Linked DNA regions of Homo sapiens: region 2 is linked to region 1. The links come from fine-mapping of genetic effects on gene expression. A gene starts in region 1. The other region holds a variant in brackets. All regions are shown on one strand. Distances are from middle to middle. Region 1 holds the start of CARMAL (coronary artery disease region linked MFGE8 regulatory lncRNA). Region 2 overlaps CARMAL (coronary artery disease region linked MFGE8 regulatory lncRNA).

Evidence for each region. PIP is the estimated chance that this variant, and not a neighbour inherited with it, causes the effect. A credible set is the group of variants that fine-mapping cannot tell apart.
Region 2: its variant is the best candidate, but not a certain one, in a credible set for the expression of CARMAL in spinal cord (GTEx, PIP 0.67).

Annotation. Positions count from the first base shown.
Region 1 is chr15:89,038,459-89,043,833 of GRCh38, reverse strand. It overlaps CARMAL (coronary artery disease region linked MFGE8 regulatory lncRNA), which reads right to left and starts at 2,836. Exons shown (of 4, transcript NR_183882.1): 1 at 2,534-2,836. It also overlaps a transcript of ABHD2 not described here.
Region 2 is chr15:89,076,197-89,081,571 of GRCh38, reverse strand. The region is part of intron 3 of CARMAL (coronary artery disease region linked MFGE8 regulatory lncRNA); the gene reads right to left. It also overlaps a transcript of ABHD2 not described here. Among named protein-coding and RNA genes, the nearest start is that of ABHD2, 9.6 kb to the left of the region's middle. The variant A/T (reference allele first, on the strand shown) is at 2,160.

The DNA.
Region 1 (5,375 bases):
ATCAAAATATTTATCCCAAGCTGATATACCTTGTAGATTGCCTTCAACTCTAGATCTCCTCCTCCTCCTTCTTCTTCTCCTCTTCCTCCTCCTCCTTCTCCCCCTCCTCCTTCTCCCTCCTCTTCCTCCTCCTCTCCTCCTCCTCCCCCTCCTCCTTCTCCTCCTCCCTCTCCTCCTCCTCCTTCTCCTTCCTCCTCCTCCTCCTCCTTCCGCCTCCTCGTCTCCTCCTCCTCTCCTCCTCCTTCTTCCTCTTCTTCTTTTCTTCCTCTTCCTCTCCTCCTCCTTCCTCTTTCCCTTCCCCTCCTCCCTCCTCTTCCTCCTTCCTCTTTCTTTTCCTCCCCCTCCCCCTTCTTCCTCTCCTTCTCCTTCTCCTTCTCCTCCTCCTCCTTCTTCTTCTTCTTTAAAAAAGAGATAGGGTCTTGATCTGTTGCCCAGGCTGAAGTGCAGTGGCACAAAGATAGCTCACCCTAACCTTGAATTCCTGGGCTAAAGTAATCCTCCCACCTCAGCCTCCTCAGTAGCTGGGACTACAGGCATGAGCCACCATGCCCAGCCCAAACCCCAGCTCTTCTGCTGAAAGCAAACTTGCCCCCCTAGGGTGCTAGAAGAGCTCAGGCAGGGTTGGCTGCCACCTTCTGAGGGACTGTATGTCTTACTTCTGTCTGTCTTCTCCACAGCCCTGTTGGTTACCTTTTCCTAGCTACTCCCATGGTTTTGGGAAGAACATTTGTCAGAATGGTGAAGGGAGGGCCCCTGGGGCTCATCCCAGTGGTCAGCATAGGCATCAAAGCAGATTACGGCAAGCCGTGGAATATGTACTAGTGGAGGAAACAAATGGTGCTGGGCAAATTAAGAAAGAAGGTATAGGCCGGGCGCCGTGGCTTATGCCTGTAATACCAGCACTTTGGGAAGTTGAGGCGGGTGGATCACTTGAGGCCAGGAGCTTGAGGCCAGCCTGGCCAACACAGTGAAACCTTACCTCTACTAAAAATGCAAAAAAAGAAAAAAAGAAAAAAAAAATTAGCCAGGCTTTGTGGCACACACCTGTAGTCCCAGCTACTTGGGAGGCTGAGGCATGAGAGTCACTTGAACCCGGGAGGCAGAGGCTAGAGTGAGCCAAGATCACCCCACTGTACTCCAGTCTGGGCGACAGAGCAAGACTCTGTCTCGAAAAAGAAAAGAAAAAACAAAAAGTCTCCAAAATAAATAAATAAATAAATAAATAAATAAATAAATAAATAAATAAGAAAGAAAGAAAGAAAAGGAAATAAAAAAGAAAGAGAGAAGGTATAAATTTCCAGGTGGGAAGTAACCAGGACAGGAAATCTTCATGGAGGAGGTGGCACTCGGTGTAAGGATTTAGAAGAGATAAGACGGAGGGAAGGCAGGAATGATGGTCTAATTGGGGAGCAGAGAGGGTGTACTTGGAGCATGTGCTTCAATAAGAAAAGTGTCTCAGTTTTTAAGCTAATGTTGACCTGGTAAAAAGATGTTTGAGGGAGTAGGGTAAAAGCAAGACTATAGTGTTATGGAGAAGGTGGCTGAAATCCTCAATAGTGTCACTGAGTGGTCCTAAGCAGGCTCTGGATCCAGGCTGCCAGGGTTCAAATCCTGGCTATGCTATGCAGCTGCTGCATGTTCTTCAGCAGGTTACAAAACCCCTCTGTCCCTTGAGTCCTCAGCTATGATGTGGAGACAATAATGTACTGGTGTCCAAAAGTGGCTATGAGGATAAGTTTAGAAGTTTAGAAGTATAAAGGGCTTAGATGAGTGCTCGGCACATAGTAATGCTCACTGTATGTTTAGCAATAATGGTGATGGTGATGGATAAGATAAAGATGGACGCCCCTCCCAACCAAACACCCGGGTGACCTCTGGTTCCGACCCCCTCCAGGCCCTCCTGCCCTGATGTTTGACCTCAGCTATGCCTCTGATTCCAGGTAGGGGAAGATGCTTATGCCCTTCCAGGTCTCAGGTTGCTTATTCTGTGACCATCTGACCCCTAGCAATGCTGTCTCAGCCCCTCCAGGCCAGGTCTGGGTGCCGTGGGCCCTGCTGATGAGGTGGTGTGTCATGCCTGGTCAGCAGGGCAGACCGAGGGGCAGAGCTGCTTTCCCCAGCAGGGGAATAGAGTTGCGCCTTGCCTCAACTCTGCCTCTCACTGGCCTCAGTTTTCTTCTTAGTGGACTCCTAGGACATCTACCCAGATGCCCGGACAGAGGCACAGGCTTGGCTCAGGTCTTCCAGCCAATGAATAGCCAAGGCCGGATTCACACTAGGACAGTCTGGCTTTTAACTGCTGCACTAAGAGTCACTGCAGTAGATCCAGACATCAAGGAAGGTTCCCAGAGTCCTGGTGCCTCTGTGCCCTTAGGCGGGTGAATACTGATGGGTGGAGACAGAATTGTTACAAATATATAATAAATAAGTTATAGTAAAGCAGAATTCAATCCGAAACTCAGAAGAAAAGCAGTCCCCTCCATTCTATTGCAAACCACCTCTAAACTTCGTGGCTTAAAACCACAAAACTCACATTTGCTCATGATTCTGCAACGTGGGCAGAGCTCGGCAGCGGCAGTTCATCTCTGTTCCACATGGCATCAGCTGAGGCTGCTCCACCGAGGCTGCAGGATCCAGTTCCAGAATGGCACACTCACGTCACTGGAAGTTGATGCTGGCTGGCAGCCAGGGCCTCCTCTTGGCCTCCTTACACAGTTAAGTTAAACTTCTGCAGCACAATAGTTGGGTTCCAAGTGGGAGCATCCCAGGAGGAAGCATCCCAGGCCAGGGGTAGGCACTTTTCAAGCCTCTGCTGGCATCTTCTTGCTAGAGCCCTATTGGCCAAAGCTTGTCAGCTGACCAAGCCCAGAGTCAGTGTGGGAGGAGACTACACACAGTGGTGAATACTGGGAGCTGTGGTTTACCGAAGTGTCTGTCTGTCTGAACTTCTTTTTCCTAAGGCTCGCTTTGGTGCTCCTCACATTCTCCCATCAGCCTCCTCTGAAACCTGGTTCCATCCAGTATCCTCTCTCTCACCTCGTCCATTGCTCCTTCTTCAACGAATCCCTCCTTTCAGCCAACAGACCCACTCAAGCCACAGCTATCCCCGAACAGCTCCGTTCAGCCCTGCGTCTCCCTCAGGGTGCCGTCCTGTCTCCCTCCATTCCTTTGCTTCCAAAACCCTTCAAATAGCTGCTGAATGCTGGAAGCAGAAAAAGTTCCCTAAAGCCAATTTGCTACATTTATGAAATATTCTAGGCTGGGCACTGTGTCTCACGCCTGTAATCCCAACACTTTGGGAGGCCAAGGCGGGCGGATCACAAGGTCAAGAGATCAAGACCACCCTGACCAACATGGTGAAACCCCGCCTCTCCTAAAAATACAAAAATTATCTGGGTGTGGTGGCACGCACCTGTAGTCCCAGCTTCTTGGGAGGCTGAGGCAGGAGAATCGCTTGAATCCAGGAGGCAGAGGTTGTAGTGAGCCAAGATCGTGCCACTGCACTCCAGCCCGGCAACAGAGCCAGACTCTGCCTCAAAAAAAAAAAAAAAAAAAAAGTGAAATATTCTGATTTGTCCATTCTAAAGAATTTTTTCTTTAATGTTTTCAATGAATACGAATATATACTGTTAATGAATGCATTAGTAAATATATTCAAGAATATACTCTTATGAATATAAATAAAAATCTATTGATAAGAAGTCTAAACTACTCGATGACTCTTAGGTTCCAGCAAGCCCATAGTCTGTGAATAGATTCACAAGTGGAATATATTCATATTCACTGAGAAAAACTTTCTTCAAAATTTTTGACAAATTTGCCAAAATTGGCACACATCTCTTAATTAAAAAATTTCATCCCTCCTTTCTTCCATCCATTCATCCATCCAACGGATATTTATTTGAATGCCATGACATGCTCAGCACTGGGGCATAGTGTGGTTGAACACAGACCCAGCCCCGGCCCTCATAGAGTTTACAGTCTAGTAGGGGAGACAGTTACTCATTAAGTGATCATTTCAAACAAACCCTGAAACTGGCCGGGTGCCATGACTCATGCCTGTAATCCCAGCACTTTTGGAGGCCAAGATGAGAGGATCACTTGAGGTCAGGAGTTCGAGACCAGCCTGGCCAACACGGTGAAACCCCGTCTCTACTAAAAATACAAAAATCAGCTGGGTGTGGTGGCGGGTGCCTGTAATCCCAGCTACTCCGGAGGCTGAGGCAGGAAAACTGCTTGAACCCAGGAGGTGGAAGTTGCAGCGAGCTGAGATCGCGCCACTGCACTCCAGCCTGGGTGACAGAGTGAGACTCTGTCTCAATTAAAAAAAAAAAAAGAACACTGAAATTGCAATCTTGACCAGTGCTACCATACCTTTTCCAGCTCATGACACGCCCTTTGGCACGCACTGCTTTGGAATTTTGATCATACTGCTCCCTTTGCTGGCAATGCTCTTTCCCGCTTTCCCTGCTTGGCATATGCAGCTTAATTTTAAGACCCCAGTCAACAGCGCTCACTGTGGCTCTGGCTCCTATCCCCAGGAAAGATGAACTGCTCCATTATTTATGTTCTAGCAGCACTTGGCATAAACTTCTAGCAGTGAACATATCAAACCATAATATATTATATCTGTGTCTCTTCTATTAGATCGTAAGTGCAATAGGGTCAAGAATTCTGTCTTCAGAGGCTTGGGTGGAGTGAGTGTGCATGTTTAAAAAGAGAGAAGTTTACAAAAATGTTTAAAAAGAAAGAAGTCGGGGGGTGGGGGGCGGGTGGGCAGGCGCAGTGGCTCACGCCTGTAATCCCAGCACTTTGGGAGGCAGAGGGGGCCAGATAGCTTGAGCTGAGTTTAAGACCAGCCTGGGCAACATGGTGAAATCCCATCTCTACAAAAACATACAAAAAAAAAAAAAAAAAATTAGCTGGCTGTGATGGCAAGCACCTGTAGTCCCAGCTACTCAGGAAGCAAAGGTGGGAGGATTGCTTGAGCCTGGGAGGTCGAGGCTGCAGTGAGCTGTGATCGCCCTTTGCACTCCAGCCTGGGAGACAGAGTGAGACCCTGCCTCAGAAAAAAAGGTATCCTTACCTGACATGGAAAAATTCCTCTGGGCACCCATTAGGGGACAGACACCTCCATTTACACTCATCCTTTTAAAGCCTCTTATAATTTGACCCACAATATAGACATCAAAAATAAGCTTGAGGGAGGCCCAGCAGCCATGGTGGCAGACAGGGCTGGCAGGTAAGGCTCTGGTGGCCACTGACTTGAGGGAGAGCAGCCTGCTGACCTCAGCCAGGGCTGCAGCAGTGGGGCCAGTGCCAGACAAGGTGCTCCAAGGGGCTAGGACCAAGTGCAGTCATCTTTGCCTCTCTGG
Region 2 (5,375 bases), 38 kb before region 1:
TTAAATATGACATTTTAAATTTATGTTTTTAAATGTTCTTCCATGTGCTATTCTATAATCATCTCTTGTATCACCCACAATGCAGACGTGGCATTTAAGTTACATTTGATTTGTATGCCAGGGTTCATAGCAGCATTATTCATAATGGCCAAAAGGGGGAAACAACCCAAATGTCCATTGATGGATGAAGGGATAAATAAAATTGGTAAGTACAAGTAATGGAATACTATTCAGCTTTCACAGGGATGAAATTGGCCGGTGCAGTGGCTCATGCTTGTAATCCCAGCATTTTGGGAGGCAGAGGCAAGAGGATTGCTTGAGCCCAAGAGTTCAAGACCAGCCTGGGCAATACAGTGAGATCCTGTCTCTACAAAAAAGTAAAAAAAAAAAAAAAAAAAAAAAAAATTAGCTGGGCATGGTGGCGTGCTCCTGTAGTCCCATCTACTTGGGAGGCTGAGGTAGGAGGATCATTTGAGCCCAGGAGGTTGAGGTTGCAGTGAACTGTGATTGTGCCACTGTACTCCAGCCAGGGAGACAGAGTGAGACCCTGTCTCAAGAAAAAAAAAAAAAGGAATGAAATTCTGACAATTCTGACACATGCTGCAATATGGATGATACTTGAAGACATTATGTAAAGTGAAATTAGCCAATCACAAGAGGACAAATACTGTATGATTCCACTTACATGAGGTGCCTAGAAGAGTAAAATTTGGGCCAGGTGTGGTGGCTCACGCCTGTAATCTCAACTATTTGGGAGGCTGAGGCAGGAGAATCACTTGAACCTGGGAGTGAGAGGCTGCAATGAGTTGAGATTGGGCCACTGCACTCCAGCCTGGGCGACAGAGTGAGACTCCATCTTAAAAAAAAAAAAAAAAAAGTCTCCTTTTCTCTTTACCTTATCTCTTTGTTAAGCTGTCAGCCTGCTATGGTATCACATACAGCCGTTAGCCTCCACCAACTGCTGGCTGATTGTTCTTTCGTGTTTGATAATGCCCTGGAGGCATGAATTGCTCCTGTCTTGTACATTAAATTTGGGCCCCTTTGCAAGGGTAATCTTTCAGGTCAGTCTTTGAGACTTATTCTAACACCAAGGGGGCTCTTCTTAGCTGATGCTTTCCCTGGTTCTCTCCAGAACACTTCTAGCTGGTCTACAGTTCAGCTTGTTGCTTGAATGGAGTTCCCAGGCTCCTCTTAATTGCTTACCAACAAAATCTTCATTGTTTTTGAGAACACCCTTACACTTGAACTTTCCCACATTGTGTTCTACATAAAGTGTTTTCTTGGGAAGAACTTCAGAGGTCTCTGTATCTACCGCCTTCCTCTCCCCTTGGGCAAAACCTCTGCACCACTGCTCCGGAGCTTGGGGAACTCAGGCAGAGACAGTGGCCCCCTTATCTCAGGATGACAATCCGGCTTTATGAGCAGAGTGCTGGGCAGAGCAGTAGCTTTTGCTCTTCTGCTCTTGCCTTTCCTGTAAAGAATCTCTGCCCCATGAGCAAGCTGAGGCCAGGGTAACACAGGCTCCAGTATTCTCAGCCTGCCATGGCCGAGGTGGAGTTTCTGCCCTATGATTGGGGGCTAGGTTTACGAAGTGAGCCCCAGATTTATCAGCCAGTCTTGTCCAAAGTAGAGCTTTTGCAGCATGAAGCTGGAGGGTATGAGAAATGCTGGCAGCCGCCCTCCCAGCGAGATATAGTAGCCCTCAACTGAGAGCTGGGGAAAGAGGTAGCCCGTGTTCTCGGCTTCACCTACTTAGAGTAACTTTTCCATCATGCTGAGCTAGAAGAAGGAGGGAGGAAGTCTTTTGTGGTACAAATGTTATTGACTCTCACTGTTCTTACTGAGACTTAGTACATTTTCTTGAATAAAAGTTTATTAATTTGCCGCATCCCCATAAAACAATTTCCAAAGGCTTTAAATAGTTGTGGCTTTGATCTTAAGCAATTTCCAGAGATTATGGTCATTTCACTGGGGAGAGGGTTCATGGAGCTCCTCATGCTGCCATTCAGAAGTCATGGAAACCAAAATGTGTCTGAGACAGATCTCTATCCATGTAGAGGTTTATTTTGCCATGTAGAGGTTTATTTTGCCATGTAGAGGTTTATTTTGCCATGTAGAAGTTTGTTTTATTTCTTCTTCTGGGAGAAAGAAACACAAGT[A/T]ACCATAGTTCTTCTGGGAGAAAGAAACACAAGTTACCATAGGATCTGTGGCCTGTGCTTTTTCCAAAAAGGGTTTTTCAGGACTTTAGAGAGGAAAGGAAAAAAAGAAGGAAGGGTAAGCAATGAGACAGGAGATTACTTTCCTATGCGGCTTTGATTAGCACTCGCTGAATCTACATTTTACATGTGAAAGGGGCGGGTAGAGGAACAGTCAATTATGTTAGTTTTCTTGCTTGGTAAATCTACATTTTACATAAAATATGTAAACACAGAGTAGAGGAAGAAATCTAATATGCATTTGTCTTGGGTGGGCAGAGGAATTATTTCTAGTCTGGTCTTTGTCTCATACCTGTGAAGATAAGATGTTAATCTACATAGTTGGCCAGGCACAGTGACTCATGCCTGTAATCCCAGCACTTTGGGAGGCTGAGGCAGGTGGATCACTTGAGGTCAGGAGTTCGAGATGAGCCTGGGCAACATGGTGAAATGCCCATGTCTATTAAAAGTACAAAAAATTAGCCAGGCTTGGTGGCAGGCACCTGGAGTCCCAGTTATTCAGGAGGCTGAGACAGGAGAATTGCTTGAATCTGGGAGGCAGAGGTTGTAGTGAGCCAAGATCGTGCCACTGCACTCCAGCCTGGATGACAAGACTCTGTCTCACAAGAAAAAAAAAAAGAAAAAAAAAAAGCCTACATTGTCAGGGTGAGATTCAACAGAACTGTGTTTTAGGGGTAGTTCATCAGGAGGATATGTATTCTGAAAGATTTGGGACCCACAAAAAATTTCCTTGTAAGCAATTGTGAGGAAGGCCACCTGGGGAGATAGATGGCCTTCCGTTATCACATACTCATTCCTAACTAAGTACCCAGAGAAAAACATGGACAATAACGTTCATAATAGCGCCATTTGTAATAGCTTAAGGTTGTAAACAGTCCAAATATCCAAATGCAACGATCTGTTTAGGAGCAAAAGGAAGGCAGTTTTTGTGTGACTCAGTTTCCAAGCTTAATTTTTCCCTTTGACATAGTGAGTTTGGGGTCCCAAGGCTTTATTTTCTTTTCACAGTTATATGCCCTATCATGATGATTTATTATGAAGCCATATTTTAGTCCAATTAATCTGGAGGCAATGTTCAGAGAAAATTAGAAATAGGAGAGGTTGGAGCCAGGTAGAAGAGATAACAGGTTATTGCATTAGTTTCAATGTAAGTTGTTAAGGGCCTGAACTAGACAGTGGAAGTAAAAAGAAAAGAATAACAGTGATGTGAGCATAGATTCTTCAGGACTTCCCCACAGATTAAATATGGGGTGCAAGAAAGAGAGAAGGGTCAGAGATGATCCCAAGGTGGTTCTAATATGGGAGAGAAAGGTAAATTTACTTTAGATCTGTTGAGATTTTGGTGACACATATATTCAAGGGAAAGGGAAAATATGACATCATTACTAGAAAGGGAGCATTGGTAAGCAGGGGAGAGGCTGAGTTTTGTAGACAAGGGGATTTGGAGTCATAGTTTCTAGGTAACACGTTGCAAAAGCTGTCCACAGTACAAGATAATGGAAGTCATAGGCATAGACAAGTTTCAGAGAGAAAGAAAAGCAGACCAGGTTAACTTGAACTTGGGAGAATGAAACTTGGCAGGAGGAGAAAAACAGTGAAGGAGCTTGAGAAGTTACCACCACAAAGGGAGGAAGGGTTGACAGCTAACATTTATAAAACCCTTACTAAGAGACAAGCACGATTCTAAGAGTTTTAGATTTTTTTAAATATTTAATCCTCCCAATAACTCCACAGGGTGAATATGATTATGCCTGTTTTACAGATTAAGAAACTGAGGCCAGAGAGGTAAAATAATGTGCTTGAGGTCACAAAAGTGATATTAAGTAAACCCAAAATTAAAACCTTGGCAACATGAGCATGCATAATTCTCATTCTTAAGTATGTACCCAAAGAAACACACGGACAATAACATTCACAATAGCACCATTCGTAATAGCTTAAGATTGTAAACTGTCCAAATGTCCATCAACACTAGAATGGATAAACAGATTGTAGAACATTCATATTCAATGGAATACTATGCAGCATTGGGAATGAACAAATCATTACGATAAGCATGCCACCAGCATAAAGGTGAGTGAAAGAAGCCAGTCATCCAAGAAATGTATGCTATGATTTTATTTATATAAAGTTCAAAAAGAGGTAACACATGGCTGTGGTGTGAAAAAGTCACCTGACCTTTGTGAGGTGGTAGAGACTGGGAAAGGGCCTGAGAGGGGGTTCTTGGGTGCCAGTGATGCCCTGTTCCTGAGCTGGGTGGTGGTTACACAGGTGTGTTCACTTATGAAAATTCATCAAGCTGCTCACTTATGATTCATGTACTTTTCTGTGTGTAGGTAACAAACAAAAAGTACTAAAAAACAAGAAAGCAAAATAGAACCAGGGCATCTGATTTGAGGACCTACCCCCTTAACCACAGAGTGATCCAGAGAACAAGGGTCTTTTCTCCTCTTCCACAAAGAAAAATGTGGAAGGGGACCTTATAAAATTATAAATTTAAAAGAAATTGAAGAGATAGATCAACCAAATGGAATGTATGGGTCTTATTAGCATCCAAATGAAAACAAACCGTAGCTGGGTATTATGGATCATGCCTGTAATCCTAGCACTTTGGAAGGCTGGGGCAAGTGGATCACTTGAGCCCAGGAGTTTGAGACTGGCCTGGGCAACATGGTGAGACCTCATCTCTACAAAAATACAAAAAAGTAGCTGGACATGGTGGCATGCACCTGTAGTCCCAGCTACTTGGGAGGCTGAGGTGGGAAGATCACCTGAGCCCAGGAGGTAGAGGCTGCAATGGGTCATGATCGCACCACTGCACTCCAGCCTGGGTAACAGAGCAAGATCCTGTCTCAAAAAGAAACGAAACAAAACAAAACAAAAATTAAACTGTAAAAGACAATAACAAAACAATTGGGGAATGAATATTAATTATATTATGATTATGTTTTATAAAAAGTCCTTCTATTTCAGAGATACATATTGACATACTGATGGATGAAAGAATGTCTGGCATTTGCTCCACAAGAATGAGGATACGAGTGTTGAGATGAAAGATTGGCCATGGATTGATCATTGCTGAAGGTGGATGATATCTACCTGGACTTCACTGTACTTTGTCTATTTGTTTGAGTATTTTGTGAAATAAGAAGTTTTTGC